Linked DNA regions of Homo sapiens. The protein of the gene in region 2 interacts with the protein of the main gene of each other region in a biochemical or structural test. Each region holds a gene or a part of one and is shown on either strand. Other genes may lie near its edges.

Region 1 (3,500 bases), on a different chromosome or scaffold from region 2:
GACTTGTTGGTTTGATTGAAGATTTGAGATGTCTGGGTGTCGAGAAGTCAACTAAAGGGATATGACCTTGAGCAAATTAATTAGCTTTTGTACCTGCATCTCCTCATCTGCCAAATAAGTGCCTATTTTTTTTGGAACAGGTGGAGATAGGGGCATGTTGGGGAGTTAAGATAGCAGTGTAATTTTTTAAAAGTCTATTCGTATATTTATATTCTTTCTTCAATGGGCATTTGAAGTGGCTTATAACACAGAACATATATGTGATATAAAAGGAAGTAAAAACTATAGAAAGAATGAAAAAAATATTGTTAACCTCGAGGGCTAAGATAGTTGATGAGGTTGATCACATGCAACTTGAAACTTTTAGCAGCCAGAGGATGAAAAGAATCATAGTTACAGTCTCCTTAGCAGGCATGGGAAATAATACATGTCAATTCCTCAAGGGGACGACTTTTCCTGACACAGAGTTCTAAAATAATTTTTCACGGGAATGTCTTAATAGCTGTAGTGTAATTCACATTGTAAGGCTTGTTCACGACTGTCACTGGTGATTTCAGATGGTATGGCTAGGAAAATTTGAGGTAAGAAAAGGAATCCTTGAGTTTTAAGAGTTAAGTGTACCACAACTGAAGAAGATCCTTGTTTAATGTTGGCAGTTATCGGTCAAACCAAGTAAGTAATCTAGTTCCCCATAACCACTGGTTATTTATCCCTCTTTTGCTGCTACTTTGTGTAACAGGAGTGGTAACTGTCCTTGGACCTTTGGAAATTGACACTGTGTCAAGTTGATTCTTTTTTCATAGTGTAAACCCAAATCTCCAACTTGTTGGAGAGCTCTTACAATAAGCATGTTTCTCCGGAAGGCCTTTCAGAACATTTGCTGTTCTCTGAACTTCTGAACATTAAAGGCACTCTCCAGAGTGATCCATTAAACATTTTGACCTAGGATCTGTGGAGTCAGACCCATCAGCAAAATGTGGGGAAGGAGAAGAGCACAGAAGAAACTACTTTTGTTTATAGGATATTCTTTATTTGAATGAAGCTATGTGCCACTAATTCATCAAAAGGGTCAGCTGAGACTTAGGAAGCACACCAAGTAGAGCCCCAATGGGTACAGCTTGGGTGTTAACCCGATAGGTAAAATCCAGGTTTCTCCTTTTGTCATCAGAGTTATCTTACGGTTAATTTTTGGTGCAGTTGTATAGAATTTACGCCAGGACTTGTCAGAATCACTGAAAGGAGATTTCATAGGTTGGCATTTCCTATCTTCACATCATTAGTATCTCTTGATTCTCCTTAGAGTGGCTGCTGTTGTAGTAGCAGTCTTTAAAACAGGAGTTGGGGTGTAAGAAGATCCTCTTTTTAAGATTTCTCCGCAGGTATTGATTACATCTCTTTTTCTTGTTTGGTTTAGTTAGTTACACTCTAGTTTCCAAATTACTTTGTTCCAAGTTTCTTTAGACATTTAGCTTGTAACAGAAATCTGTTAGAAGATTTCTAGATCAGTAGTTGTCTAGATCTTTTGCTGCCAAGGTTACAAATGTATACCTTTTCTTTTATCAGGAGTGTGTCATTTGGATCCAGAGTGTTTTACCCAATATAATATTCTTTTTTAAAATTTATTTTTATTTTTTATAGAGATGGGGAAATCCCTGTGTTGCCCAGGCTTGTCTTGAACTCCTGGGCTCAAGCGATCTTCCCACCTCAGCCTCCCGAAGTGCTGGGATTACAGGCAAGAGCCACCACGCCCACCCCAATATAGTATTCTTGGAAAGTTGTCTATAAAGGATATTTTGATACATGGAATCATGCAGGTCTTTAGTTGCCTGTGACTCCTAGCAAGTGTACTCTGCCACTCCGAGTAGTTAATGATCTGTAAATAAGCACTTTAATGCCCTCTTGGGGTTGTTTTAAAGGAACTGGCGAATAAAGGAGAATCATTTATACGTACCTGTTTCTCAAGTTTGGGAATGTGAGTATTGCATTTTTATAAAGAATGTCAACCCTGATTATACTGGATACATTTTATTATAATTTAGAACTGAATAGTAATTCAGAACACATGCTAATGAGGTGCGTCAGAAGCATTCCTGTCATGTGAAGGGCAACCTACGTGCATAGACCAGAATTTTTTCTAGCCTGAAATCTGAGAATCCCCAGTTGAAGACAAATTCTTACCACAAATTTTCCTTTTGATTATTGTCAATACTATCAGTGCCTATTGTGTAGTAAGCAGTTAATAAAAATTCACACAGAATTGCAGTTGCCTTTCCTTTTCTGATTCCATATTTTCCTTTGACTCACTCAAGTAGTTCTTTTGTCCCACTGTTGCTTGGCTGTTACATAAGACGCCTTTAACTTCCCGTTTCTGTTCCTAAAACTGTGAGTAGTAGTACAACATAAGGTAAGCACTGATTTTTGGAGTCAGTTTTACCTTTAGTCTCTACCATCTAATAGTTGTGGGACATTCAACAAGTGACGTCCTTTTCTCATCTGTAAAATGGGGAACAATGATAGTGCTATCTATATACATGGTTGAGAGGGTTAGCATTTAGTAAATAGTAATTAGTGGGGTTTTTTTGTACCTAGAGTGACCATATATCCTGGTTTGCCTGGCGCAATTCTGGTTTATACCTGTTATCCTAGCATGCAGTCCAAGGAGTGCCTCCGTAGCTCTGAAAGTTACCCTGGTTTATGTGGCCACCCTATTTATAACTCTCTGGATGATGCAACATGATAGTGCAAATGAGAGCCTAATTTTGAAATGTTAAAGAGCCAAAACAAAGAAGTTTCTATTGGAATGTCTTTTCAATAAGAAAATTTTTTTCTGACAAAAATGTTATTTTATATAGAGCTTACAGCTACTGAACCCCAAAACATTTTGTTAACTACAGGGGTGGGGTGTGTAGACAGAGATCTTAGAGCTTTTGATGGAGTTGAGATGTCCTCTACCTTACCATTCCCCATTCATCCCCCGTAATACATAATGCACTCATAGAATGTGGGTATTTGTCAGACACTGGGCCAGTCTCAGTCCAGGAGTTTATTTCCTTAAACTTCAGGTGTTTGGGGTTTTCCCAAACTAGAATCCTTGAATTACATGAAATAATTGCAAAGACTTCTGAACTGTGACTTTATCATTTTAGGTATGTACTCCAGCACCCCCGCCCCCATCCCTGCAGGTACTGTTTTCTCATTGCTCTTAACAGCCTGCTTCTAATTATGTATAACTGATTTTCTCCTGTAGAAATGTGTGGCCTTTGCTGCATGCCACTCATAGAACTAGAGTGGAGCATCCATGCCTTTGTTGAGAGACTCAGACTGCTTTCATTTTTGTTTCTATCTCTGTTTAATTTTTCTAAAGGATTTAGCCTGGTGCCTTAATCTCAGAATGTAGATAATGATGGATACTGCTTATCAGTATACATTGGGGGGCTTAATCATTCACTACCCAAATGGAACACAAAGTAAAAAGTTTAATGAACTATTGGTAAAAGGTA
Region 2 (3,500 bases):
CAAATGTTCATGAGGTGAAGGGATAAACACAATGTTGTATCTCCATACAGTGGAATACTGTTTGCCAATAAGAATAAGCGAAGTACTAATACATGCTGCACAAGAGTCAAACTTGAAAACATTATGCCAGTTACAAAAAAATACTTTATATGATTCCATTTATAGGAAATGTCCAGAATCAGCAAGTAGATTAGTGGTTGCTAAGGGTTAGAAGGGGTAGGAGAGAGATGGGAAGTGAATGCTGATGAATATGTTGTTTCTTTTTGGAGCAATGAAAATGTTGTCATTTAAATAGTGGTGGTAGTTGCCGTGTGTGGTGGCTCACGCCTGTAATCCCAGTACTTTGGGAGGTCGAGACAGGTGGATCACAAGGTCAGGAGTTCGAGACCACTGGCCAATATGGTAAAACCCCGTCTCTACTAAAAATACAAAAAAAATTAGCCAGGCGTGGTGGCATACGCCTGTAATCCCAGCTGCTTGGGAGGCTGAGGCAGGAGAATTGCTTGAACCTGGGAGGCGGAGGTTGCAGTGAGCCAAGATTGTGCCACTGCACTCCAGCCTGGGTGACAGAGCGAGACTCTGTCTCAAAAAATAAATACATAAAAAATTTAAAAAATAAATAGTAATGATAGTCGCACATCTAAAATCCATTGAATTGTATACCTAAAGGGGTCAATTGTATGATACATGAATTACTAGCCTACTGTTGATCAGAATCCTTAATGATCACATGACCAATTAACATGTATTTTGTATGTGTGTTATATAGCATATTTTTACAACAAAGTAAGCTAGAGAAAAGAATGTTAAGACAATCATAAAGAAGAGAAAATATACTTACTATTCATTAAGTGGATAGATCATATGAAGTAGATGATCATAAAGGTCTTCATCCTCATTATCTTCGCGTTGAGTAGGCTGAGGGGTTGGTCTTGCTGTCTCAGGAGTGGCAGAGGTGGAAGACAATCTGTGTATAAGGGAACCCATGCAGTTCAAACCTGTGTTGTTCAAGGTTCAACTGTATGTAGATGCATTTGCTTCCACGAGCATAAATAATCTCTGAAATTATACACACTGGTTGCTTATGGAAAGGAGAGCTGGATTCCAATGTGGGTAGGCATGGGAGGGAGATTTTTACTAAATATCCTTTTGTGTTTATCAAACTTTGTACCCTGGCATTGTATTACATGTTTTTCAAATAAATAAAAGTTATATAATGAGATATTAATAGCTTATCTTCTCTCTTGATTTTACTATATCCAGGTCCTTCAAGGGTTAGATTACTTACACAGTAAGTGCAAGATCATTCATACTGACATAAAGCCGGAAAATATCTTGATGTGTGTGGATGATGCATATGTGAGAAGAATGGCAGCTGAGGCCACTGAGTGGCAGAAAGCAGGTGCTCCTCCTCCTTCAGGGTCTGCAGGTGAGGGAGCTGAGCCAGCTTCATTTCAGTGTGGGGGCATTGGGAGCTTGCAAAGTTGCAGTTGTTGAAGGTATCTGAATCAAACGTTACACATAAGGAAGATTTTGGAAAAGTTTAATTGCTGGAAATAACTGCACCCTTGAAATGGAAAATGCCCCAGCTACATTATATTTTAATATTGGAAGTATTTACTTTTGTCCCCCTTTAAAAGGCCATTTAAATTTGTAGTTGCTGCTTCATCTATATTTGAACAGTTTTTTCTGTTGCCAGCTTCTCTGCAGAGGAGAACATAGTAACAGCTTTCCTGTAGCTGACCTTTAGTCATCAGAATATTTTTCTGGCTTCAATTTTGTGTACATAAATTCTTGTTGTCCATTTAGCATAGCTATGTCAACCTGAGTTGTATCAACAGATTTGGAGTTAGTTAGAAAAGGCCTGATGGTGGGGGAAGAAGATCAAGTGACCTGAGTATTGGGATATCTTTATTTCTGGGGCGGGGTCGGGGAGGTGGTGCAGTGAAGTGTGGACTGTGCTTCTCACTCTTCGACACCATGATCTGTGCCTTTGTGTGTTGTCAGGCAAGCATGGATACTAAAGGGCTGAGGCTCCTGGGACTGCCTGGGGCTCTCTTCACATCTCCTTTACTGCCATCAGGGTGTTGTTTAGATCATGGACCCAGCCTGTTAAGCTTTTGACCCTGGTGTAGGGGTTTAATCATGTGATTCCTAGACTATTTGCTGCATACCAACTGCAGTATTTGATTTAAATTATAGAAAGCTTGCAAAATAGATTCCAAATATCGATGTACATCTACATTGTTCATTTCATTATATTTTAAACAAATTTGGTTTAATGACTGTGATATGTATTCTTTTCCATTTTCTTAAGTGATCTGTTGGTGCTTGAGCTTGACTGTGTTTGAGATGTATTAGTATTTCATTTTAGATAAATAAGAGAAATGGCTCAGTATGAGTAACTTCTGCTGTGACTTCAGGAGTCACTCATTTGTTTCAGTGGCATAAACTTACTCTAGATCCTTGTGATTAAGAAGCTCTGATTAATAGTTTTTGAAGTTGGATAGCCATTAAAAGACAATAATTATTTCACTTTGCAATTCGAATGACCTACATGAAGGCATGTGTCTGTTTTCTGCTAAATACAGATTTTGTTTGATTTTATTTTAGTGAGTACGGCTCCACAGCAGAAACCTGTAAGTACTTACGCATATTACTTTATATGCACCATGTTAAAAGAGACCGTTTATTATTGAGTTGTTCAAATTATAAAAAAGTTGTGTATTTAAAGGGTAGACACATTTATAAAAGCTGTGTATCCTCAAATAGGTAAGACTTAATGTCTTGTTAATTTTTTTTTTTTTTTTTTTTGAAAACTGAGTTTCACTCTGTTGCTCAGGCTGGAGTGCAAGTGGTGCGATCTCGGCTCACTGCAACCTCCCCCTCCCTGGTTCAAACGATTCTTGTGCCTCAGCCTCCCGAGTAGCTGGGATTACAGGCACCTGCCACCGCACCCAACTAATTTTTGTATTTTTAGTAGAGAGGGGTTTCACCATGTTGGCCAGACTGGTCTCGAACTCTTAACCTCAAGTTATCTGCCTGCCTCGGCCTCCCAAATTTCTGGGATTACAGGTTTGAACCACCACGCCCAGCCTGTCTTGTTAAGTTTTAATGATCTGTGCAGAGTTGGGATAGTTAGAGCCTTTCAAAAATTGTCTTCTTTATGCATTTTCTGGACTATGGTGGCCAAGTTTAGTGAAATGTGAGGTGATGGAGTTGAAGTATTTTTATTTCAAAACCACTTTACATTATTTCTGATTGGCTGCTAAGTTACCTGTTTTTCTGAAGCTGTTGTTCTAATTTTTTCCATGCGGATGTTAAATAAGAAAGAGACTGATCTATTTTGTGGTCCTGTCAAAACACTATGTCCTTATTAGATACTGGGTGTGGTGACTCACGCCTGTAATCCCTGCACTTTGGGAGGCTGAGGCCACTAGATCACTTGAAGTCAGGAATTCAAGACCAGCCTGGCCAACATGGTGAAATCCTGTCTCTAC
Region 3 (2,401 bases), on a different chromosome or scaffold from region 2:
TCATTAACATTTAAAAAGCAAACGGAGCATTTCTCCTTCTTTTGGCAATTTGGTGCAAATGTTAAGTGCAAGATAAAGCAATTTCAAACTTTTCTTCAAATTAAAAATGAAACTAAGGCCAAACGTGATGGGTGAACAAAATAAATCAAAACTTAAATTTCAGCAACTCCAGCTCTTCAAACCAGCAAAAGCCCCCGACTCAGGCACTGTGGTGAGGCTTAGGGTGCCTGCCCCGGCTTCTTGCGTGCCAGCAAACAGCACCATTTCCTCATCACGTTGAGAACCGAGAAGCAAATGATCCCCTTCACTGCAAACAAAGGGGGTCAACAGTAACACTAGTGATCCTTCAGAATTGACACACCGTGATAGTCAAAATGAAATTGATGGTCTCCCTGCTTCTTGCTCAAGACATACAAGATCTGAGCAGCAGCAAGCACCCCCTCGGCTGCAAACAAAGGGGTCAAAGGTTTGCCGTCAATTCACTTCCAGGCAGAAAAACATTTTCCTCAAAAGAAACAATTTATTTAGAATAAAACAAAAGCAGCTCAACTGTGAGCGCACGTTTGAGAGACAGCTACTCTTAAGCTGTGTGAGCCATAAAAAGGGTTTTTCTTTACTTTTCCAGAAATCTTGTGTACACAGCACAAATCAAAGAGGTCATTTTTTTTCCACTTAAAACACCGGCATTGGCATCACAATAGCAGATACACAACTTTAAGCTGCCATTTTAGTAAAATGCACAAATACTAAACAGATTAGCTTTCTTCCATCAGAGGCCCATGTAAACTCCACATAAGCCACAACTTCTCTTCAAAAAGGTCCATTAGAGCTTTGAATTCCATATCTTCATCCGCTGTTCAACCAGTTTTGCTTGCGGAGGGGGGGAAAAAAAGGTTATTCAGTACAAATGTTTACAATATTAAAAATATATATATTTCCCCTATGCCATTATAGATGAACATAACATTAACAAGACCTTCCTGGATGGTTCACCTCAACTTCAAAAAGCACCAATAATACCCACTGGCATAAACCTTGAAATGAATTTACTGTATGAATAGACATATAACAAGTAGAACAATAGGGTGGGTTTTTTTAAAGACTGCAATTGAAGATAACAGGACTGAAAATATCCTTTAACTCATGTAACTGAGTAAAACATGTTGAAAAAATTCAGAAAAAAGTTTCACAATCAATTTATAATCTATCAATATATTCTAAATATAACTTAAAAAGTGAAACTATAAAAAGGTAAAGTTTAGTCAAACTTTTGCCCCATCTATTTTCATTCTGTAATTTATATGGAGCAACATAGACTACTCCATTATTGTAGAAAGGGGTCGATACAAAGCCATTTAAAAATCCACCCTCATCTATGTTACCAAAGACAGCAGCCGTTATTTTAATAAAACACTCATACAAATAATTGTTAAACAGCCAAAGAACACTTCAGGAATCTCACTTTTCAACTCTGTTTAAACCATACATATAAAACTCTTCATTCAGCTTAACATTTCACTGTGGTTACCTGAAATCATTTCCTCCCTTTAGGGACACCACTATAACCACTATAACAGGGTCAGCGCCAAGTTTTCTCTCTTCTTGTTCTCATACCTAACTCCTATCTGAAAACCAAACCCTGTGAGAGAGACAGAAAAAAAAATGTCCAGAAATTCTCTCCAAAATTTTTTTCACATAAAAGGTCATTAAGGCCCTCTTCTCAAGAGGATTTCCTAATTCTGTTACCAGAGTTTTTGGTGATTGGTTCCTATATGGACCCAAACTATAGTTCAAGCTGTATATGCATAATGAACAATCTGCCTTAAAAAAGTGGATTTACATTTTTTATTTTTAAAAAAGCATTGTCAGTGAAAACCTGCTAATAGTTTTTAAATAAACCTAAACAATGTCTGACTCTGAAAGCAATAACCAAACACCTGACTCTTATTACTGGACCTAAAATGACCTGTAACTGAGTCAAGAAGGGCCAGAGTATATTTTACCTTCAAAAGGTGACAAATGCTTATAACCAGCCAGGCGATGGACATTTTAAGATGTAATCCTCAAAAGAAAAACTCTATCCACTCTCAGTTGAGAGTCAAAGTACACCAGAAATTTAAAACTTTGTGTGAAAAATTATTTATAGGAATCCCAACAAAATACTTAACCAAAAAGTTAAGCAGAACTATTGGCTAGGTATTGCTTGCTTAATTTTCCATAAAATTTGAAGCTGTGATCTAAAAGTCTTATCTTCACGTTTTTACCAATAATACTTAATAGTCATTAAATGATATCCTGAAGTTTTCTTTCCATTCATTTTAACTGAGTTCCAGAAAAATCAACTACATTAAAATAATTAAAGAAGAAAGATAGAAAAAAATTGGTTGTTACAAAGAACATT
Region 4 (3,500 bases), on a different chromosome or scaffold from region 2:
AGGGATTGAGAGGGTCAGCTGTGGGAAATTGGTGTCAGCTGAGTAATTGAAGCGGTTGTGATATAGAGGAAGGGGGGTGCTAAAAATGGGCTGTGTGAAGTGCCAGGCTGCAGAACATCCTGGGAAGCTTTTAAATATCTTTGGTAATAGGGGAGTCTGGGTAAGAAGTGAGAAACTGGGATGCTAATGAGGAAAGAAGAAAAAGGAGCCCTGGGTGTTTGGGTTTCGGAAGGAGAGAGGGAACAGAAAAATAAAAAGACTAGGGTGGCTAGATAGCTGGATCTGTTAGTATGCATCAGTAGTCCAAGCTACTCAGCAGGCTGAAGCAGAAGGATCACTTGAGCCCAAGTTCAAGACCAGCCTGGGCAACATAGCAAGACGTGGTCTCAAAGAAGACCAGGATAATGAGTTTGTCACCACCCAGAGAGATCAACCCCAAAGCCTGGGTCGTTGCATCCTGCAAGTAGCGACAGTTGATTTGTTGTAAAAGAGATGATAGAAAGCATAGTAACTGATTCCCCTGGCCCTGCTGGGTCTTGCCAATTGACAGGATCGTGGGGGTCCTCCCTGCAAGCCCCCAGCACCTGAAGATGAGGATGAGGCATGGCGGCAGCGACGAAAGCAGTCGTCATCTGAGATTTCCCTGGCAGTGGAGCGGGCCCGGCGACGGCGAGAAGAAGAGGAGCGGCGCATGCAAGAAGAGCGCCGGGCAGCCTGTGCTGAGAAGCTCAAGCGACTCGATGAAAAGTTTGGGGCACCTGACAAGCGGCTCAAAGCAGAGCCTGCTGCCCCACCTGCTGCCCCTTCTACCCCAGCTCCACCACCTGCAGTCCCTAAAGAACTCCCTGCACCTCCAGCTCCACCTCCAGCATCAGCCCCAACACCAGAGACAGAACCTGAAGAGCCAGCACAGGCCCCTCCTGCCCAATCTACTCCTACTCCAGGTGTGGCTGCGGCTCCCACTCTGGTGAGTGGTGGTGGCAGTACCAGTAGCACCAGCAGTGGCAGCTTCGAAGCCAGCCCAGGTATGGAGATGGGGATAGGTACTACCAGATGTCAGATCACTGCTTCAAGGTGCTTAAAGGTGCAGGGTGGTAAGGCTGGGGATAAATGAAGTAGAAGGCAGTTGTTTTGGTTTATTGGACTATCAGTGATAGTGTTCTATCATTTGTATATCTGAAGGAGGGAAGGTTTTGTCTGGAATCTTAGGTTGTAGTCTAATACCATTTCTTGGCAGAGTACTGTAGCTCACGCCTATAATCCCAACACTTAGGGAGGCTTGGGGTGGAGGATCGCTTGAGCCTAGGGAGTTTGAGACCAGCCTGGGCAACAAAGCAAGACCCTGTCGGCCAGGCATGGTGGCTCACACTTGTAATCCCAGCACTCTGGGAGGCCGAGGCGGGCAGAACATGAGGTCAGGAGTTCAAGATCAGCCTGGCCAACATAGTGAAACCCGTCTCTACTAAAAATACAAAAATTAGCCAAGTGTGGTGGCATGTGCTTGTAGTCCCAGCTGCTTGGGAGGCTGAGGTAGTAGAATCGCTTTAACCCGGGAGGCAGAGATTTCTGTGAGCCAAGACCATGCCATTGCACTCCAGCCTGGGTGACAGAGCAAGACTCTGTCTCAAAAAAAAATCCTGTCTCACAAGAAATACATAAATAAAAATGAAAACTATTTCCTATAGGCCAAGACTGAAGAAAGTACTGTTGTTCTAATGGTTTCATAGAAAGTTAATGCCACCACCATAGGCTCATGAGAGGCCATGAAGTGCTTTAATGGGTCTTAAATGGGAGGGGCTTCAATAGAATAGATGTTGAATAGAATATTTTAGTCTTAAGGGAGCTAGAGATGAGACGTGAGATTCCTGGGGTGTTCATGGAGTGTCTATTGTTGGACTAGATCACTCTGTTGTGTTTTTTCCGATGCAGTGGAACCACAACTGCCCTCAAAAGAGGGTCCTGAACCACCAGAAGAGGTTCCTCCTCCTACCACACCCCCAGTTCCAAAGGTGGAACCCAAGGGTGATGGGATTGGTCCCACCCGCCAGCCCCCTAGTCAGGGCTTGGGCTACCCCAAATATCAGAAGTCGTTGCCTCCTCGTTTCCAGCGGCAGCAGCAGGTGAAATCAAGTTGTTTACCCTCTAAGGGCTGCTTTTCTTCCTGGCTTCGGTCCCTAATTCTCTTCATAAGTTACCTTCTGGGTCCCTTTGCTTCTTTGTCCAGTTGTCTCCATTGTCACGCCAATTTCCCCTAGTCCAAGTTTTTTCTTTGCTGATTCCTTTGTCCATGTGTGCTTTGAGCCTCTCTCATCTTGTCTTTCCTCCTTTCCTAGGAGCAGCTCCTGAAGCAGCAGCAGCAGCACCAGTGGCAGCAGCATCAACAGGGCTCTGCCCCTCCTACCCCAGTGCCCCCATCACCACCACAGCCTGTGACCCTGGGGGCTGTGCCAGCTCCACAGGCTCCACCCCCGCCCCCCAAGGCCCTGTACCCAGGTGCTCTGGGCCGGCCCCCACCCATGCCCCCAATGAACTTTGATCCCCGATGGATGATGATTCCTCCTTATGTGGACCCCCGGCTCCTCCAGGGTCGTCCCCCTCTAGACTTCTACCCTCCTGGTGTGCATCCCTCTGGTAAGGGGGCATGGGAGGAGTGAGAAACAGGAAAGTCCCCTCAGTCTTAGGCATTGGATATTAGGGTCTTACTGTGACTCTGGTACGATAGGTTTTGCCCATCATAGTGATGAGGGAAGGGCATATGCTTGGCACTGCTGAGATAGCTCTGTTGCAAAAATGGGCTTAGTTAAGAAATAAGCAGTGGTTGGCCAGGCATTGTGGCTCACGCCTGTAATCCCAGCACTTAGGGAGGCCGAGGTGGGCAGATCAACTGAGTTCAGGAGTTCGAGACCACCATGGCTAACGTGGTAAAACCCCATTTCTACTAAAAATACAAAAAAGTAGCCGGCGTGGTGGCGCTCGCCTGTAGTCCCAGCTACTCGGGAGACTGAGGCAGGAGAAACGCTTGAACCCAGGAGGTGGAGGTTGTAGTGAGCCGAGATTGTGCCATCGCACTCCAGCTTAGGCAACGAGCGAAACTCCGTCTCAAAAATGAATGAATGAATAGCACAACTCCATCTCAAAAATGAATGAATGAATGAAAGAAGCAGTGGTCCTTCATTTGCCAGGATTTATTTGGGGTGGGTTGATTCTCTTGTAGGGAATCTGAGTGGATAACCTTGTTATATAAGAGCAGGCAAGGCCCGGACCTACTGGGAACAAGAGATGGAAGAGCTGACTTGACCGCGAGGGGAGATGCTTTTTGGGCTGGAGGGCTTGTGACATGAATAGGATTATTTTTCTTTTTCTTTGGTTTCTTCAGGCCTAGTTCCCCGAGAGCGTTCAGACAGTGGGGGCTCAAGCTCAGAGCCATTTGACCGTCATGCACCTGCTATGTTACGGGAACGGGGCACTCCACCGGTGGATCCAAAGTTGGCCTGGGTAGG
Region 5 (3,500 bases), on a different chromosome or scaffold from region 2:
AGGCCACACCACAAAAGCTGGTCCAGGTCCAAAGATAGCTTTCGCTTTGTTTCATTACCTCAGCTACCAAGTGAGGGAAACATATAAAGTCAAAGTTTGATGAGGCAAGTGGACTGACTTCCCCAATGTCCCCCTTGTTCCTCCTCAAGAAGGCATTTCTGAATTTTGGCAGTCTTGGCCACCCACTGGGCTTGCTGCATTTACCCATTTTGTTGGAATTGCCATTGAGAACCAGAAAGGCAAAGTGAATTGCTCAAGGATAGTAGCGTAGCACTAGAGCTTATTAGTTTTTTGGTACTCAGGTGTGGTATTCTTTTACCACATTTGTTTTCTTCAAACACGTCCTGTTTTTCTGTGTGATAGACTATGAGAAAATATGGTCTTAGGAACTTTTTGTTGTTAGAGATGCTCTTTAGTTTAGTTATACCACCTCAAAGGTCATACCAATAGGACTTCCATTTCTCTTTTACTAGGGACAGAAATGATCTTGTATCTCTTAGAGCTATTTGGACAAGGGGAACTGGCATCCTTTTCTCTCTCATCCAGAATGTATGTATCAGTTAATATTGCAAGCTGAAAAATCCTTTAAGCTTCTGTTAGATTCTGGCAGAATACAGTTCCGATATCAATTGTAGCTCCCAAACTGCTCTGCAGTGTTTTTTCTGGCACAATGAAGCCTTTGGCCATCACTGCTACTTTGAAAATCAAAGCCTTTTGGTCTCTAATGGAATGTTTATAAAAATACTCCATTTTGAAATTTACTCAAGAAAAGGAGGAAGTATGGTAAATGATATTAGAAATCCCTCCGGCTTGCCTTGGCATAGCTTCATTTAGTGTTGTATACTCCAAATATCTAGAATTAGTGTGAATACAAAAGTATTAAAACCCAAAGATAAATAAGCTCATGTCCTTCTTCTATGGAAGTATAGCATCAGATACTTATCCCTAATTGTTATTTCTCTATAATAAGGTAAATTGCCCTTTGCCAAATTTAATATAGTTATCTTGGATAAGCTGAAAATTTCCTGACACATGTCAAAAGTCTCATCTATTTGCAGTCTTACTAAGGTGAAGTTTTTTGGGGTGGAGCAGTATAGAATGTCAAGCCTGTAGCAAAAAAGGCTGTACTGTACATATGTCAGTCTCTGTTGCTTTCCTGGGTGTCAGTGAAATAAAGTAAACAGTCAAATGTAGTAAACAAAACATGTTTACTTTAGTAATACAGTGACTGTCATAATACTTAACATGTAAAAAGAAGGCCAAGGACCTTTAGCTTATCCTGTGGTGTCAACCCTGTCTCAATGTAAGGCACTAGTGTATCTTAAAGTAAGAGAATGACTTTTATTCAAGAAATACACAACAGGCAAGTGCCGTATACCAGGAATTGTTCTAGGAATCTGGCAGTGAATATAAGACAAACTACCTGCTCTCCTTGAGCTTCTATTCTAACGTGGGAGAAAGAAAGCAAATAAATTACATGAATTGATTAATTGATCAGTTGCATGGCTTTTAGTATACATTTCTGTCAGTCTGCCAACCAGCACAGGTCCCTTATTAGCATGGGAGAAGGGCCTGATCACTGAAAGTATTATAGATTTATAGAGTATTGAAAGGAAACTTAAGGAAATTGGGGGCAGTGGCCTTTTAGAAAACAGCCTAACTCCATCAGTGACTTCTGCTTGCTTGTGCCTCTCATATGTGATCTGCTACTGGCCTTTGTTACTTCTCTCTGAAATAACACAAAAATTATGTTTAGGGCTCTCATTGACTTCAACTCCAAACCATATGTTACTTCTTTTAAAAACATAATTTCTAAAAAAAAAAAATATATAGAGAGAGAGAGGCAAATACAGTATCTTAAGATGATACTATATTTGAAATTCCAAGCTAAAACCCTGGAACAAGAAGCTGGTAATATTTTGGGAAGCATTCTTTATTTTTGAGTAGTCTTTCTGTGTGTAGGCCTCTAAGTTCCCAAAGATATCCTTTGGTAGCAACTGACTTACTATGTAGTAGCATTATTTGATTTTAAGTCATTTGATTTTTTTATCTGAGGAGATACCTTTATTATAAAAAATTTTACTTGAAGAAATTTATCTTGATAAGCAAATGTAAGGCTGTCACTTTTGCTTATTGGCATTAAATAAACATACTACAGTTTTTCCATTTAAAAATGTGGGTTATTTGATTATGCCAGAGTAGTTACAATCAAGAACTAACAAACATTTGTACTTAATGTACTGAAAGGTCTTTGCCCACTTTTTAAAAGTTCTCTTGCAGAACTACAACTCTGTGAAGTACTACATTTATAAGCCAAAACATTTTTAACAAAGAAGAAAAATTCCCATCATTCATTTAACCAAATACAGTAGTAAACTTTGTCTTTAAAATGGGGAGGCTTGTTATTATAGTTGCTTTTGTTTTTGTTATACCTGTGGTTTTTGCTGTGTTTTTTTAGAAGTTGAAGGGAGCGTGCTCTCTCTGGGGGTTCAGTTAATTGCAGTGAGTAAATCAATATTCAGCAATCATGTCTTTTAAAGCCCTTTCTAATCTTGAGATTTTATGATTCTATATTTACCTTTGCCTCTGCTTTTTCCTTCAGTGATAAGAGTGCAGGGATTATGTAGGGGTTGAGATGGGGAATGAATTGGGCTAGTGGTTTAGGAGGTGATGGGCATTAAGTGGGAGTTGAAAACATGTTGTGGTTGATTCTAAGAGGGGCAATTGCTATTGGCTTCTGCTTTTTTTGTAGTTTTTTTTTTCAATACTAAATACATGTTCTTAATTGTAATTATTTTTCAAATTAGGGGAAAAAAGGAAGAAAAAGATAAACCCAAAGATAAAAATAATTTTTGAAAGTCACCTTCTCATAGCTTCCTCCAAACAGACAATCCCTTAATTCTTAGAAATGGGCCAATATATAAATCATCAAAAAGATGATTAAGAATAGGCTTTGAAAAGAATTTTGGAGGAGATAAGGTATTTTTCACGGGATTATGTTATTTATTGGCTCATAAGTTTCCTGAAAGATAGAATTTATTTTTGGTGATAAGATTGAATTTAAGGTAGATATTTTATGTCCCTTGGAGCTAGACAGTCTTTTTTATCTTTTGTGTTCCCAGCCCCAAATATACCACCTAACCTATACTAGGTACTCAAAAATTGTTTCCTGAGCTTAACACAGTACTCATTCTTGGTGGAAATAACAGCAAGATAATCCCGGTGTAAAAGGAGTAGACTTTTTGTGAATAAGGGAATTCTTTTTCAGTCACTCTCCAAAATGTTCTCTTTCAGAAAGTGTACAAAAAAATTTTTTTTTTTGCCTAGTATATTGGAATCACAAGCACTGACTTCATATTTCAAAGTTGAAAGAAATGAGATAGATGTCCCACACAGCTGTAAAATGCCAAAAATAAGTAGTGCTGACATAAATTAAAGGCCAGTGCTCTGAAAAGCCACAGAAAAGCTTCAGATCAAGGGTGGCTATAATTGAAAGGGCC
Region 6 (3,500 bases), on a different chromosome or scaffold from region 2:
CCGTTTGAGCCCCAGCTCCAGCAGCCATGGGGGATCCCTCACCTTCCCACAGTTCAGTGGGAACAACGACCCCTCACTGCAGGACCATTCGGGTCAGTTGAACTGACTTGTGCATATTGCTCCCAGCAGGCATGGGCTCTGTGCCCTTTCCTGTGTTCTTGGAGACACTTGGGGCCTTGCCAGTACAGTGTGGCCAACGGGCCAGAATATCCGCTGGGAGCCCTTTGGAAATGCAGAATCCCAGGCTCCACCCAGCCCTGCCCCGTCAGAATCTGCATTGTAGGAAGATTTGTTCCTGGTGGCCGGTGTGCACATTCCCATGTGGGCCGTGCTGGCCCAGGGCTCCCTGTGGTGTGCCTCTGTGTAGATTTCACCTGGCTCTGGAAGGCCCTGAGAATAGCTCTGAAGATGATCTTAGGTGGCTTTTTTTTTTTTTTTGAGACAGAGTCTCGCTCTGTCGCCCAGGCTGGAGTGCAGTGGCGCCATCTGGGCTCACTGCAAGCTCCGCCTCCCGGGTTCGCGCTATTCTCCTGCCTCAGCCTCCCGAGTAGCTGGGACTACAGGCGCCCGCCACCACGCCCAGCTAATTTTTTTGTATTTTTTTAGTAGAGACAGGGTTTCACCATGTTAGCCAGGATGGTCTCGATCTCCTGACCTCGTGATCCGCCCGCCTCAGCCTCCCAAAATGCTGGGATTACAGTCGTGAGCCACCGTGCCCGGCCTAGGTGGCTTTTAACCCAGGGAACTGACAGTCCTCTGAAGCCGCCCAGGTATTGGGAGAGGGAGAGGTGGCTGTGGTCTGAGCTCAGCAGGAGCCATCAGATCAGTTTCTGGTTGGGCCCCCACATTTCACACCTGGGCATCTAGGGAAGAGACAGGGAGGGCTCACCCCTCTGGCTTAGTGGACATCGTTTCACCCCCAGCCGGGACAGTGCTCAGCAAGGCCGTGGCTGAGAGGCACCCATGAGAAGGTGAGAGGCCCCCACTGCCCCTGCTTATAAAGCATCTGGGGAGGGCACATTGCCAGGCAGCAGGAGGGAGGCCAGCACTCGTTTGACTGGGCCAGCGTCCCTTTCCTGGGCCCCTGTGCTGTGCTGGGGTGAGGCGGGAAGGGAGAGGATACAGCCCCCACCCTCCCTCCTAGAGCTCACTCCTGGGCAGACGAGCCAGGCAGCACAGATGTGCCATGAACAGGGATGTCCAGGGTGCAGTGCATGGGCCTACAGAGGAAGAACCAGCCTTCTCTGGCGGCCCGGGGACCCATTAGGGAAAAAGGAATAGGAAGCGCCCAGCACACACTGACCCTGGGAGGCAGGGGCTGGCTCCTGTGGCAGAAGGGAACATCTGTGCCAGACATCTCACCTACATTGCCTTGGTGAGTTCATTCACAGGCCTCCATTACACAGGAGAGAAATATCAAGGTTTCTCTAGAAAGGTTTATTTCATGGGCCAAGGCTTGTGTTTCCAAAGCCAGGAAGGGCTGAAGCCAGAATTGGCCCTGGCTGCTTGCCACAGAGTCTGGCCGGGGGACCCTGGACCTCAGCAGGGTCATGATGAGGTCAGCTTTGGAGGAGCAGGGCCAGTGTGTCCTGCTTTCTGCTCCTGGAATGAGCCTCACTCCCTCCCTGCTCAAGGCAGCCCTTCACCCAGCCGCCGGGACAGGTGCCCTGTGCCACCTGCCATCCCTGTGATTCTCCATCTCAGTGAGTGCTCCCTGGGGCCTGGGAGCGCATCTGGCTGGTGACTCCTGTGTCCCAGGTCTAGCTTGGACCAGGAGCTTTGTAGCCCACCATGGGCCAAGTAAACGGCTGGGAGTGGGGATAGGGAAGGCTCTGAGGGTTGTGAGGGTTAGGGGGTCCCTCCATGAACCAGGATCTTCCAGGCAGCAGCCCCAGCCTCTGAATGCTCCTTAACTGTGGCCGCCATGCAGTGGTTGCCACATCCAAGAAGAACGCGTGCGTGTCGCTGGTCTTTTCTTTCCTCTATAAGGTGGTGCAGGTGAGTCTCGCTCGGAGGGGCCGTGGGCTTGGGTGGAGGTTGTCTTGGCTCTGCTTGTGGACCTCCCCATACCTGGCCACCCTACAGAGAGCTGTGGCATCCCCAGGGAGCACTGGGGCTGGAAGCCCAGGAAGTGGGAAAGGGGAGTCCCAACTCCCCACGCCTGTGGAATTCTATAGCTCACGTTGCTCCCCTACCGTGGGGAAGAAAGGAAAGTGAACAGGAAAAGGTAGGGCTCAGAGCAGGGGTGCCCTGACCCTGGAAGGGACAAGCAGGGGTCAGCGAGCTTTGGAAGGATGTGGGGTGACCAGCTGGATGGGGCTGGAATAACCAGCAGAGCTGCAGAGCTGAGCCCACCTCAGAATCTCCCAGGGGGCTCTCAAGGCACAGATGCCTGACGCCCACCTTGGAGAGAGCTGACACGCCAGGCCCAGGCTGCCAGTGAGACACAGATAGCAGCCAGGGTGAAGGCGCCAGGACAGGTGTATGTGTGGTGCAGCTAGGGAGGCCAGCGTGCGTGTGGCAGAGTATGAGGCTGAGGTCAGCTGGGAAGAGGGCGGATTATACAGGAGTGTGGATTTCATTCCACTTCTGATGAAAGGTAGTGGAGGGCTTTAAGCAGGAGACTGACAAGACGTGGTTTGATCTAAAGCAGCCTCTCTGGCTGCTGAGCAGAAGGAGGACTTGAGGCCAGTGAGGAGGCTGCTGCTGGCTTCCCGGAGAGGATGGGCCTGGCCGAGGTGGGCTGTGGGGCTCACGAAAGTGGGGAACAGGACCCAGGAGGCCTGTGCTGGGCCTGGGAAAGCTTTCATCCCTCACTGATGCTGCCTGTGCAGAATGTTGGGGAACAGGGGCAAGCCTGGGCGGTGAGGGCTTGGGGAAGGAGCCGAGGGTCACCTGGGAAGGCCCCACGTGCAGGCCAAGGGCTGCCTTCACTGGACCGGTGATGCTGTCACAGGCAGGGCTGGGCCTGGCTGTGCTGCCTGTGGTTTCCAAGCAGAGGCCGGGTGATCACAGTCCTGAAGCGCGCAGGGGTCAGCAGATCAGAGAATGGGGGATGCGGGAAGGGGAAGGTCCTCACCCAAGGGTTGGGCTGTGCCTTTCTGTTTTAGTGACGCTCCTTCCTTCAGCATTTGTGCCTGCAAAAGTGCTTCTAACAGCCCCTCTTCTTTGGCGTCCCTTCCTTAACCTTCTGAGCTTTCCATTGAAATGGGGAAGATGCATCAAGCTTTCCACTGAAATGGGGAAGATGGCAGCTCATCAGGTCCTTGCCTGAGTCACTCCAGACTCAGAAAGGGATGACAGTTACAGTCGCTCAGGAGGGGCTGCCTGTCTGCGGGTGTCTGGGCAGGGAAGAGAATGGGAACGCAGAGCTTCTGAAGGCCTCGGGACATCTGCAGTGGCTCCAGCCTGGCCCCACCCCACAGCCAGCCACTGCTGTCCTGCCCCATAACCTGGGTCCAGGGCCCTGTAGCACACCACCGAGCCTGGGAAGTAGGCTG
Region 7 (3,500 bases), on a different chromosome or scaffold from region 2:
AGAGGTACAAACTTAATGATTCTTGATTGCTCAAATTCTTGTACATTCACACACTTATGAAAATGGTAGTCAAGAATATCAATCCCCTTTTTTTCTGAGTCCTTCTCATAATAGGATTCATCTCGCTTCGGCAACTCAAGGTCATTCAAGGTTAAAAAGCATTCCAGGTTCCCATTCACAAAGCAGAGGCAATAAATTTGAGTTATCACAGCACTTTCAACAAATTTTCCTTCTTTTGTGACTTTACCCCAAAAGTTGTCCACAATTTCCAAGGAAATTTCTTGCTCCTCGTAGTTCTTTTTTGGTTTTGAAACAGCTGGCAACTTCATCAGCTCCTCCTCCACAGTAGTCAGAAAGTCAAGGAAGTCATGGTACGATGTGGACCCCAACTTCAGCATCTGCTCTATGTCAGGTTCATGAACTACTTCTGTCTTAGAATGGTATTTCCTTTTTTCTGTGTAAGACACATGTTCAATCTTCACAGTGTGGATTTTTCCTGCTACACTGAAGTTCTCAACCTTGGGTTCAGAAAGCCTACAATATGGATCAAGCTGTATCTCTTTAAATGGTTTTTCTAATCCCTGTTCATAATACATCTGCAAAATTCCTCCAGGCAAAACTTTCAGAAAAATTGGTCCCCATTGCCGGGAAGACATCATATTCTTCTTCTCAGGAATTCTCAGCATGAAAGACCATCCGGATTTTGGCTGACTCCTGAAGAGTGTGTGGGGGACAAAGGAAGAGGCATTTTCTTCAGCACATAGACAGTGCATAGACAAACTTCTAAGTGAGTCTTGGTTCTCAGCTGACTGGAGATGTTCAAGCTTCTCACAGATATAGTTGAGTGAACACTTATTTAGGCTTTTTTGGTCAATAGGCATCTCCTTGTTTCTTGATGAGAACATCTTTTTGCTTCCTGGTGGGTCAAGGGTGAAATGGGAATCACTGCCTTCATCTTTCCAAAATGGACTTGAAAAAGCACAGTCCTCTCGAAAATACTGAAACTGGGGGAGATCATCACTTTGGAATCCTAGGCTTTCAGCCTGTTGAGGATTAACTTCATCTGGAAGACCTACTTTGGGAGTTGGATGTGTACATGAGTGGTCACTGGGTAACAAGGCATGGGATAAACATGTTGGTCTGGTAGGCAGTAAGGAAGATTCTCCTCCTGATATTGCGAGTGGGCTGTCTGAAGATGATTCTGGAATAGGATAAAGCACATGAGTCCCTGCTTTGGGGATGCCAGGAAAACCTGGGAAGTCTTTGGTAGGTGTAGAAAGAGGAGAGTTACTTGGAGGTCCTGGACTGAAATAAAAATCTACAATGGGGGAGGAGAGAGGAGTGCTGCTGGTGGAGGAAGATCCACTGGGAAATTCCCTGAGGCCAGGAAGGTTCAGCTTCAGTCCATTTGGTCTACAGACACCTTGATTCTCCAGAGGAAAATTCTTTGACTTTTGAGAAGATTGAACAGCAGGATCATCATCAAAGGTGACCCATTTGCCTGGATTTGTGGAGCACATCTTTGGGATCAGATTGTGGTCTTGTCAAGAAATCAAATAGGTTGACTCTGTTAAAAAAATAAAATAAAGAGAAAATAGGTATATAAAATGAAGGGGGGAATCATTACTAAATGTCTTTACTTCTGATAAATGCTTAAAAATTATAATTCTGTTGGTGGCTAAGTGGATTAAAAAAAAAACATGATCCAACTGTATGCTGTCTATAAGGTACTCACTTTAGATTTAAAGACAGACATATGCTGAAAGTGAAAGGATGAAAAAACATATTCCATGCAAATGTTATCCAAGAGAGAGCAGGAGTAGCCATGCTTAAGCAAAATAAACTTTAAGTCAAAAACTATCATAGGAGACAAAGAAGGACATAATATAATGATAAAAGAGTCAATTCACTAGGAAGACGCAACAATTATAAATATATATTAACCCAGCTGGGAATGGTGGGTCACAACTGTAATCCCAGCACTTTGGGAGGCCGAGGCAAGCAGGTCACCTGAGGTCAGCAGTTCGAGAGCAGTCTGGCCAACATAGCAAAACCCTGTCTCTACAAAAAAATACAAAAATTAGCCAAGCATGGTGGTGGGCACCTGTAATCCCAGCTACTCAGGTAGCTGAGTCAGGAGAATCTCTTGAACCTGGGAGGCAGAGGTTGCAGTGAGCTGAGATAGTGCCATTGCACTCCAGCCTGGGTGACAGAGTGAAACTCCATCTGAAAATATATATATATTTATATATCCAACATCAGAGCACCCAAATATATGAAGCAAACATTAACAGAACTGAAGAGAGAAATAGATAGCCACCCACTAATAATTGGAGATTTCAACACCATACTTTCAACAATACACAGAACATCCAGACAGAAGACCACTAAAGAAACAATAGACTTGAACACTATAAACTCAACTAAACTGCCATACATATACAGAACATTCCACCTAACAGCAGCAGAACACATATTCTTCTCAAGCACACACAGAACATTTGCCAAAGCAGATCACGTTAGGTTACAAAACAAATCTTAACAAATGTGAGAAGATTGAAATCACACAAACATTTTTTCTAACCACAATGGAATAAAACTAGAAATTAATAATAGAAGGAAAACTAAAAAATTCACAAATATTTGAAAATTAACATACTCTTGAACAACCAATGGATCAAAGGAGAAATAAAAAAGGAAATTAGAAAATATCTTGAGACAAATGAAAATGAAAACACAGCACACCAAAACAGTACTCACAGGGAACTTTATAGCCACAAATGCGCCACTGCACTCCAGCCTGGGCAACACAGTGAGACTCCGTCTCAAAAAAAAAAAGGAAGAAAGAGGGCTGGGTGCAGTGGCTCACATCTATAATCCCAGCACTTTGGGAGGCTGAGGAGAGCAGATCACCTGAGGTCAGGAGTTCGAGACCAGCCTGGCCAACATGGAGAAACCCCATCTCTACTAAAAATACAAAAAATTAGCTGGGCATGGTGGCACACACTTGTAATCCCAGCTACTCAGGAGGCTGAGGCAGGAAAATCGCTTGAGCCCGGGAGGCAGAGGTTGCAGTGAACAGAGACTGTGTCATTACTCTCCAGCCTGGGCAAGGAGAACGAAACTTTGTCTCAAACAAAAAAAAAAAAGTGGTGTTGAAAAAACTTGATATCCACATGCAAAAGAGTGAAACTAAACTGTAATCTTATACCAGAGATGTCTAATCTTTTGGCTTCCCTCAGCCACACTGGAGGAAGAATTAAGGCCAGGCACAGTGGCTCACGCCTATAATCCCAGCACTTTGGGAGGCCAAGGTGGGTAGATCACTTGAGGTCAGGAGTTAGAGACCAGCCTGGCCAACATGGCAAAACCCAGTCTCTACTAAAAATACAAAAGTTAACCAAGCATGGTGGTGGGTACCTGCCCAAAAATTAGCCAGGCATGGTGGTGGGCAGGAGAATTGCTTGAACCTGAGAGGAGGAGGTTGCAGTGAGCTGAGA

Evidence for each region.
Region 1: of the proteins of SRPK2 (region 2) and AHCYL1, one has a biochemical effect on the other in vitro, tested with the Homo sapiens proteins (one large-scale study listed by BioGRID and IntAct).
Region 3: of the proteins of SRPK2 (region 2) and RBM15, one has a biochemical effect on the other in vitro, tested with the Homo sapiens proteins (2 studies listed by BioGRID and IntAct).
Region 4: of the proteins of SRPK2 (region 2) and PRRC2A, one has a biochemical effect on the other in vitro, tested with the Homo sapiens proteins (one large-scale study listed by BioGRID).
Region 5: of the proteins of SRPK2 (region 2) and OBI1, one has a biochemical effect on the other in vitro, tested with the Homo sapiens proteins (one large-scale study listed by BioGRID).
Region 6: of the proteins of SRPK2 (region 2) and AP1M1, one has a biochemical effect on the other in vitro, tested with the Homo sapiens proteins (one large-scale study listed by BioGRID).
Region 7: of the proteins of SRPK2 (region 2) and STON1, one has a biochemical effect on the other in vitro, tested with the Homo sapiens proteins (one large-scale study listed by BioGRID).

What each region holds. Positions count from the first base shown.
Region 1 is NC_000001.11:109,987,765-109,991,264, forward strand, and holds part of AHCYL1 (S-adenosylhomocysteine hydrolase-like protein 1), read left to right. Parts: intron 1-3,500. UniProt on the Homo sapiens protein: Multifaceted cellular regulator which coordinates several essential cellular functions including regulation of epithelial HCO3(-) and fluid secretion, mRNA processing and DNA replication.
Region 2 is NC_000007.14:105,144,422-105,147,921, reverse strand, and holds part of SRPK2 (SRSF protein kinase 2), read left to right. Parts: intron 1-1,263; coding exon 1,264-1,429; intron 1,430-2,613; coding exon 2,614-2,639; intron 2,640-3,500. UniProt on the Homo sapiens protein: Serine/arginine-rich protein-specific kinase which specifically phosphorylates its substrates at serine residues located in regions rich in arginine/serine dipeptides, known as RS domains and is involved in the phosphorylation of SR splicing factors and the regulation of splicing.
Region 3 is NC_000001.11:110,344,777-110,347,177, reverse strand, and holds the end of RBM15 (RNA-binding protein 15), read right to left. Parts: intron 1,640-2,401; coding exon 1,569-1,639; 3' UTR 1,529-1,568; intron 871-1,528; coding exon of another isoform or gene 824-870; 3' UTR 501-823; downstream 1-500. UniProt on the Homo sapiens protein: RNA-binding protein that acts as a key regulator of N6-methyladenosine (m6A) methylation of RNAs, thereby regulating different processes, such as hematopoietic cell homeostasis, alternative splicing of mRNAs and X chromosome inactivation mediated by Xist RNA.
Region 4 is NC_000006.12:31,627,215-31,630,714, forward strand, and holds part of PRRC2A (protein PRRC2A), read left to right. Parts: intron 1-550; coding exon 551-1,025; intron 1,026-1,929; coding exon 1,930-2,120; intron 2,121-2,333; coding exon 2,334-2,631; intron 2,632-3,376; coding exon 3,377-3,500. UniProt on the Homo sapiens protein: May play a role in the regulation of pre-mRNA splicing.
Region 5 is NC_000013.11:78,617,656-78,621,155, reverse strand, and holds part of OBI1 (ORC ubiquitin ligase 1), read left to right. Parts: intron 1-3,500. UniProt on the Homo sapiens protein: E3 ubiquitin ligase essential for DNA replication origin activation during S phase.
Region 6 is NC_000019.10:16,204,411-16,207,910, forward strand, and holds part of AP1M1 (AP-1 complex subunit mu-1), read left to right. Parts: intron 1-1,930; coding exon 1,931-1,998; intron 1,999-3,500. UniProt on the Homo sapiens protein: Subunit of clathrin-associated adaptor protein complex 1 that plays a role in protein sorting in the trans-Golgi network (TGN) and endosomes.
Region 7 is NC_000002.12:48,578,654-48,582,153, reverse strand, and holds part of STON1 (stonin-1), read right to left. Parts: intron 1,568-3,500; 5' UTR 1,521-1,567; coding exon 1-1,520. Other genes in the region: STON1-GTF2A1L protein, read right to left, coding at 1-1,520. UniProt on the Homo sapiens protein: May be involved in the endocytic machinery.